Linked DNA regions of Homo sapiens: region 2 is linked to region 1. The links come from fine-mapping of genetic effects on gene expression. A gene starts in region 1. The other region holds a variant in brackets. All regions are shown on one strand. Distances are between the middles of the regions.

Evidence for each region. PIP is the estimated chance that this variant, and not a neighbour inherited with it, causes the effect. A credible set is the group of variants that fine-mapping cannot tell apart.
Region 2: its variant is the best candidate, but not a certain one, in a credible set for the expression of RBPMS in lung (TOPMed, PIP 0.74).

Annotation. Positions count from the first base shown.
Region 1 is chr8:30,382,708-30,387,228 of GRCh38, reverse strand. RBPMS (RNA binding protein, mRNA processing factor) reads right to left here and starts at 2,688. Exons shown (of 9, transcript NM_001008710.3): 1 at 2,071-2,688. The coding sequence starts at 2,136. RBPMS-AS1 (RBPMS antisense RNA 1) reads left to right here and starts at 1,828. Exons shown (of 3, transcript NR_046205.1): 1 at 1,828-2,085; 2 at 3,532-3,685. RefSeq lists enhancers at 1,559-2,230, 2,231-2,901.
Region 2 is chr8:30,574,322-30,578,321 of GRCh38, reverse strand. It overlaps GTF2E2 (general transcription factor IIE subunit 2), which reads left to right. Exons shown (of 8, transcript NM_002095.6): 8 at 1-4. Among named protein-coding and RNA genes, the nearest start is that of SMIM18, 62 kb to the left of the region's middle. RefSeq lists a silencer at 2,520-2,569. The variant G/C (reference allele first, on the strand shown) is at 1,985.

The DNA.
Region 1 (4,521 bases):
CTCTTGGACAACTTGGGTTCTGAAATCTTCCTACGTGTCCCCTTACTTTTTACATAACAAGTGTTTTGCTAAAAAGACCGATACTTTCTAGAGCCACATGCCATTCCTACCTGAAAAGGAACGCTGTCAGATAACAGGACAAGTAAGAGGCAGCAACTGTACTGCAATGGCCCGCGATTATACAGCGATTATTATACACAACCTCACAAGGACGGAGGAGCGTCCAGGAACAGGGCAGGCAATCCCTTGGTCCTGGCAGCTGTTAAGAGGGGTCAAGCAGAAAAATGTGACTTTTCTATACTTAATTTTAATGTGGGTATGATTTTTAGGACATTGAACCTCTTTTGCTACCTACCAAAAGGAAAAAAAAAAGTTTTCTCAACTGGGTGAATAAAGAAAGATGGTTTCATATAATATTCTAACCCTGAGAAGCAAACAGATTGCACATCTAGCTGAAACAGAAAGATTTCTGAAGCGATGATTATCTTGATATGGTAAGTGAATTAGTTAAATATGGTAATTCCTAAAAAAGCACACTTGTCATTATTTTTAAATTTTTTTAAGTGGTAGGGAAAATAAATAGCAAAGCAGCCAGTAAAGTTCAAGAAAAAAAATCAGAACACACCATTCAACTCTCCATCGCTTTGAAAAAAGAAATGCCAGTAGCATTCCTACAATTGTAATTAGAAAACATGCAAGTAAACAACTCTTCAAATAGTCTTTTATAATAAAATAGAAAATGTCCTCGGGTGAAAAAGCAATTTTTGGCTGACTGCAATTCATTTAGGTTTTCACTACCATACAACTGGGTGACGAGTAAAATCTCCTATTTATTTTGCATTGTTTGGCATAGTCTCGCTCCTCTACCTTCTCCATCTAAATAGTTACCATTTTCCAAGTGGACAATGTGCAGAGAAGTTGTATGTATTAATGAATTCCTCTGCAATTTTGGTTTCACTATCAGAATTGAAGTTTGCACACAACATAGTGTCTCAACAATGATCTCAACATTCTAACGCTTTAGAATCCGTTTACCTTCTGTGTTCACCTATATCAGGATCCAATACCTGTGTGAATCTTTTCGGGTCATATTTAGACGTGCACTTTCCTGCATCTACACACACTCTCAAGTTCCTCTAGAATGTTTAAGAACTCAACTGTGTGGGATGTTAAGAAGTACGCCAGAAATAATTTCTTGGACTCCAGATAACGTACCTGCAAAAAGAGTCATTTGGTAGGATACCACAAATATCCTACTGAATTCTGAAACGTTTGTTCCTGAGTCCGACTCCCCTTCTGACCACATCTACTCAATTTTGTTTCCACCGAAGGAACGCTCCGCAGTCACAAAACTTTCATCATGATTACGGACGCACCACCTAAAATGCATGCTCAGAAGTCAAAGTCCTATGAAAATACCCTCGATGAGCATTTGGTGAATTGCTGCGTTTTTAACCCTCTTACTCTGCTCCCCTCAGCTGCACGGCCCCTAAAATCACAAGCGTTCACCGCCCAGGCTCGGGGTCTTTGACTCAGCAGAGAAGAATGTGGCTGATGAGTTATCTATTAATCCAAAAAACCTCGGCTAGAAAGATATTTCACCAAGAACTTTTAACACGGAAAGGGAGGGGGCAGGGAATAGAGGTATCTTTTAACGAGAACTTTCCCCCGAGTTTCTTCCTTAAACTGCTCCCCCCCCGACCCTGAATCCATACACAATTTCCAGCCCCGGCCCTAAGTCCTGACCCTCCGAGTCCCGATTATCTGAGGTCACCCAGGAGTCAGCTCTCGGTTCCACTTATAAATCCCGGGCAAACAAAGCTGAGCATTATACTTACAAAAGTCTCCGAAAAGTCCTTGGAGTTACGCAATTTGGGGCCCGCAGACGCGCGTGGACACAAAAACACACGCTCCCGAGATCCACCCTCCCCGGGCCACACTGTGGGGCTGCGTCCGGGGCACGGGCCATGCCTGAACCTTCTTCCACCGCCGCGCCCCGGGCCCGCGCCCCGCCGGCCGCCCGCACTGGGTCCCGCGTCGCCCCCGCCACCACACCGAGCCGCCCAGTACCTCCTCCTCCTGAAGGTTGGCCTCGCTCGGGGTGTTCTCCTTCTCGGCTTTGCCGCCGTTGTTCATCTTCCCGGTCCTTCCTCGCCGGGCCGGGCAGGGCTGGGGCGCGGGGCTGGGCGAGGGCGCGCTAGCCCACTGGAGCCTTCCCCGGGCGCCGGGGCTCCCTCGGGCGGGCGCCGCGGGCTGTGGGGCTGGAGCTGGAGCCGGGGCAGTGGCTGTCGGGCTCGGGTTGGGCTGGGGCTCCCGCGGCGAGTCTGCGACGGCGGCGGCGGGCGACTCAGGAAGTGCAAGGGAGAGACGGGGCAGGGCGCGGGCCGGGAGCGGGGCACCGAGACAATCGGGCCCCGGGAGGGCGACCTGGAGAGGGAGGGCGGGAGCCAGGGGAGGAAGGAAGAAGGAAGGAAGGAAGGAAGCAAAGGATGGGGCGAGGACGCGCGTCCCAGGAGTAAGCGCGGAGAGTTGGGGCTGGGGGCTGCAGCCGCTGGAAGGAGGGGACGGGGGTGCCTAGAGAGGAGGAGGAGGAGGAAGAGGAGGAGGAGGAGCGGGGCGGAGGAGCGCGGGCCGCGGCTGGGACGCTGGGACCCGAGAGCCGCTGAGTACGCGCTCCAGGCAGGCTCTGGGAAGTCCGGGATGGAAGCAGCTCCCTTTCTCTCGCCTTCCTCCCTCCCCTCTCCCCTCCCTCCTCTCCGCGCCTCTCCTCCTCCCTCCGCCCTCCCTGGACGTGGGCTGCCGGCTGCAGCCCGGAGGGACGGGGCGCGGGACGGAGCCCCCCGCGGGAGGAGGGGCCGGCGGCCGGATGGCGCGCGCCGGGGAGGGGCAGCGGGCCGCGGGCGGAAGCGGCGACCCCAGCCCCCGACTCAGCGGCTGGTCGGAGGGCGAGGGCCCGGGAGGCCGAGGGCAGGGAGGTCGGGTCCCGCCGTTCCCTTGGCCCCCGGGGGCCCCGGCGTCTGCGCGCCCCGGGACTTCGGGGACCCTGCCCCGCCGGGGCCTGGACCGGGACCTGGGATGTGTGCGACTTTTAGTTTGCCGGCTTTTACCGAGGGATTTGCACCCCTGGCCCTAAGCCCACCCTTCCCGAGCCAGACCCGGTTCTTCCTCTGCTGCTTGAATGACAGCATGAGAACTCGAGGGACACCGGGGACAGCCCACTCCGGGCCGGCTTTTTCAGGACAGGGCTTCAAACCCATCTCCAGCGCGGGTCCTGCGACGCGCCCGGAGCCTTCCCCGCTTCGCTTCCTGAGCGTCCCGCGGCCCCCCGACTCCTCTCCCAACTCTCACCAGACTGTTCTGGGATTGTTTACCTGGCCTCTCCCTCACCCTTCAGAAAGCTCCTTCCTGGAAGAAAAAAAAAAATCCTGCCCTATTTATCTTTTTAATCCCACGGCTATTTAAACGGGCTAAGGGGTATATAGCAGGCACTCAATAAATATTTGTTGGCAAAGTGAATATTCCTTATTGCAGGCAGAGCTGGGGGTCCGTACGGAGGAACTTCAGAGGCTGGAAGCACGCTTGAAAAAGAAAGGGGGCCTGGGCTTTGCACCAGCTTCAGGATTGCGTACTTGTTTCCTCATCCGTGAAATGGGAGCAGCTGAATGTGTCTCCTCGAGTTTTCGAGGTGATTATAGGTTGATAGAGCTATATACAGCACCCAGCATTTATTCTTGCTTCGTTTAGGTTTACAATACATGGAAGCTAACATTATTATTAAGAAAACTTCTATTTTTCCAGGGCCTTAGAAAGCGTTTCCAATACTCGATCATTTAAGCTTATGGTTTTTTGGTTTTTTTTTTTTTTAGAAAAATGAGGGTCTCACTTTGTTGCTCAGGCTGAGCTCGAGCTCCTGGCCTCAAGTGATCCTCCTGCTTTTGGCCTCCCAAACTGATGGGATTACAACGTGGAGCCACCGTGTTAAACTCTTAGATTTGACTGCTACAAAGGTATAAATGTGGAACTCCATATATCAGTGGGTTCTGCCCCACTTCTTCCTCCCAGGAATTCTCCATCCCAGCCTGCTGCTCCTGTCTTGCACCGGTAACAGTTTCCAACTACAGTATTTGCTTAACTGTTTCTCCCCACCCCCACCAGACATTCTTTATACTTGGTTTAAGTGCTGCTGGGGATAGGGCGGGGGTGGCTGTGGGAGTTGCAGATAAGGACCCTCCCTTTAGGGAGTTTAAAGTGGTATGGTGGCTCACACTTGGAATCTCAGCACTTAAGGAGATAGAGGAAAGAGGATTGCTTGAGCCCAGGAGTTCAAGACCTGCCTGGGCAACATAGTGAGACTCTGTTCTCCACAGAGGGGAAAAAAAGAAAAGACAAAAAAATAAAGTGGTATGGAGCCAAGATACTCTCAGAATCCTCTTTCCGATTATAGAAAGCAAGGAAAATATTTGCTTTAAGGGCATTATGAGGAGAAAAACAGTAGTGATACTTGGATTTACATATTGGATT
Region 2 (4,000 bases), 190 kb before region 1:
GTCATTGTTAATGTTTTCTTTTAAAAAGAAGCGTCAGTGTCAGCCGGGCAAGCTGGCTCACGCCTGTAATCCCAGCACTTTGGGAGGCTGAGGCAGGTGGATCACGAGGTTAAAAGATCGAGACCATCCCGGCCAACATGGTGAAACCCTGTCTCTACTAAAAATATAAAAATTAGCTGGGCGTTGGGGCATGTGCCTGTACTCCTAGCTACTTGGGAGGCTGAGGCAGGAGAATCACTTGAACCCGGGAGGCGGAGGTTGCAGTGAGCTGAGATCGTGCCACTGCACTCCAGCCTGGTGACAGAACGAGACTCCGTCTTAAAAAAAAAAAAAAAGTATCAGTGTCCAGCTTCTTGGGTTTGGTAAATTCCAGGATGGCAAGCCTTTGTAGTGTCTCCTCGTCAACCTGAACGTCAGCTATACCATGCCTCCACCCTCATGTGGCCTGACCGGAGATGGTTCTGGTGGAGATGCCCTCTGTCACCGGCCCAGCTCATGAGAGCCATTACCAAATATGTGAGTGTTCTTTAGAGTGAGGGTGACTCACGGGAAATTCACATGGTTCTGCTTTCTACGGCAAAGTTTGCATTTTCCTCACCTGCACTGTTTATGTTCTGCTGTGGTCCTTTGTGCTGGTGGTCATGGTCCTCCCGTCACAGCATGGGATAGTAGTGGATTAGGAAACGAGGTGTTGGTTCTCAGAAAAGGCATGATGGAAACCCAGAGCAGGAAGTGCTTTGTGCAGACGACAAAGAACCTTTTTTTGCTTTTTCAGTTGTTTTCTCTTTTCTACTTACCTCTCATCCCTTTACAGTGTTATCTGTTTGCTTTACCTCTTTCTTACCTCCAAGCCCCAAAACATGGCAGGAGAGGATGTAACTGAGGTTCCCACGATAATTTAGAACACAGGAAATACAGCCTGTCTTGCTTTGTATAAGGTTTTTTTCTGGTAAGGAAGAGCTTTAATATCTTATGGCATGAAACTAGCTTTCCTGTAAAAAATCTAGAGTTAGCTTATCTCCAGGTAGGTACCTACTTTTGTGATCTCCACACTCCATCTTATTTTATGGGCCAGGTCTGGAAGTACAGTTTGGACATCTCATCTGCTTTGCAGGGAGATGGGCATCAGGGCCTCCGTCGTGGGCTCTGTGATCAGGTTCTCCATCTCTGTGATAAGGCGCTTACTGCCAGTTGTGTTATTGGTTGTGACTTCTAGCAATGCCTGTGCTCAGCAGTACTTCGTGGGCTGGCCTGATAATTGATTTCAGTTATTTTGTCTAAAATTCATTTCAGAAATGAAGATCTAGCAAAATGAAGTGACTCACTAAATTGCTGTACTCAACAAAATTCCGTAGCTTTATCTCATTCACTTGCAGTTTCTTTTGTTAAGCCTCGACCCACTCAGTCTACTACATGTAAGAGCAAATCCTCCATATACCCCATCTCAAGGTACTGGGGTTGCATCATCGGGTGACATGTTGAGGATACAGTGTTTGTGGGAACACTGATGGAAGGTTACTTGTGTTGGACGGTCATATTACAGGCACACCTCATTTTATTGTACTTGCTTTATGTGTTTTCACAGATACAGTGGAGTTTCTTTTCCATATTGAAGGTTTGTGGGAACCCTGCTTCAAGCAGATCTGTTGGTGCCGTTTTTCCAACAGCATGTGCTCACTTTTTGGCAATAATATATTTTAAATTAAAGTATATAATTGGATTCTTTAAGACATAATGCTATTGCTCACTTTCTACTATCATGTAGCATAAACATTTTAATATGCACTGGGAAACCAAAACATTTGTGTGACCCACTTTACTGTGATATTTGCTTTATTGCGATGGCCTGGAACCAAGTCTGCAGCATCTCCGAGGGATGCTATACAGAGAAGCTGTCTCTTCGCAGTTCTTCTGGGTGTCTGAAAACATATCCACCAGAAACACCAAGTTGAAGTCATGTTCTCGCCTCTGCCCGTTTCTGGTG[G/C]CTCTGCTGGCCATTTAGAAGCACGTGGGAATGGCACGGCTCGGTGAGTTAAGAGGGTATGACAGTCGGGAGTGCATTTGATCTATAATTCATCACCATGATGTGAGGCTTTTAGGGGATAGCTAAGGGAAATGTAGTCAAGCCTGGACAGAGTGTAAAAACCGAACATTTGGCTGCTGCTGTCACAGCCTGTAAATGTGGCCAGATGATGGTGGGACCCAGGGGACAGAGTGGCACTTGACACCTGTTGAGCAGAGGCTTAGTGGAAAGGCAGCGCAGGACATCCCGTTCCTTCCAGCCCCAGCGTTCAAGGGACTGCGAGTGGACAGCCCTGTCTTTATCTGTGAGCCGTTTGAAATCTGTAGCAGTAGAATGGGATTGTCAGTGTGGACGGTTTTGTGGGATGAGGGCATTTGGTTTATCAGTTCCCTGATTCTTAGTTAATAGTGATTTTCTGAGGCATAGAGGATGAGACTCAGTGTCTCTTCCCTGTAGCCACGGGTTTTACTTTCAGATGACTCATTTGTGGGGAGGATTTGGGGTTTTCTAAGGTTTGGTTGACTGTTGACAAGCTCAGCCTGGTGCCGCGCCTTCTGCAGCGAGGCGGAGCAGCCCTCCTGGACCTTCCTGCAGGTTCGAGGTCTCTCAGGGTGGTTTTTGTGGGCTTGTCCTGAGAGATGAGAAGGTGTTCTGTGGGAGTTGTGGTGGGATGGTCCAAGGACCTCTTGGAAACCATTTTTCAGACTAACTGGACCGTAGAACACCCATCCCTGTCCTGTCTGGAGTGTTGGGGGAAGCACCGCTGGAAACTCAAAGAGCTAGACGGCCCTGGCTGGCGCTGTACGGTTGGCCCCCCTCTGGCTGCAGTGTAAAGAACGACAGTGCATTTTGCTTCCCTGGATTTCCATTAGAAATAAATGTGGATCCTGCTCTTCAGCAGATGGGGAGGGGACTAATCCAACTCCACTGGTTGGGGATGGGACCAGCACATTTGTGTGACTTAACCATGTGGTTCTGAGACCCTGGTGAAAGCCCAGTGACTTTTCATCTGGCCACAACTTCGTGGGGCTTGCATGTCAAGGGAGAAAAGGCAAAGACTTTCCTTTAAAGAAAACACAGAAGGGTGCCAGCAGGGGATAACTGAGTGAACCATATCCTGATTTAGGCGGGACCAGCTCTAGAAGCGCCAAGAGCAGGTTTGTCCCGTGGGTGGTGATTGTGAGGTTTTGAAGTGCCTGCTAAGCCCCCACGCCAAAGCTTATGTTGTAGTTTTAAAAAGTGCTCTTTTGTCCAGGTAAATCTTTTATTTAACTCGTGCATCATTTCTCATTGCATTTAGGCCTTCCTTTTTGCTCAGAAGAGAAGTTTGGGTTGACTTTAAGCATTTGGCCCAAGTTCCTAACTTGGAATTAACGACCATGGGCAGAGTTCCACGTGAATTTCTCAACTGGACAAGTGGAACACAAGGACCCGAATTTTCTCTTCCCCTCAGATCGTCCATAGGTGAGATGTATGTGAACAGTGGTGGAGAATGGAAGCCTTCACTGTTTTGTTTATGTTTACCAGCAAATTATTACGGTTTGTAGGAAGAGCTCCCTCCTCCCTCGCCCCCCAAATAGGAATGAGTTTGAACTGAGGGTCAGGAAGAGGTAAGTGGCAGGTTCGTTGGAGAGCTGCAGAGGGGCCTAGTTCTCACAGCACACTGGCATCTCTCAGGATTGGGTAGCTATGGAGCCAGGCCAGTTCACACAAGAGTTAATATTAGTTCCATCTGGGATGTTCTACAGCAGGGACAGATAGCTTTACAGTGGCAGTTATTGAAATTTCCTAATTTAGTGCTCTTGATCAAATTGCTGACAACATACAGTTTTTCATTATCATAGTTATTAGAGTTTTAGGAGAGGCATTTATTGAGGATGAGTGTTTTAAATAACACCTCACTGGTAATGAATATTCTTAGGTTTTCTATGCAGGCTGTAAAGTTGTTTTATGCCATGAGGTTTTATGCCATGAGGG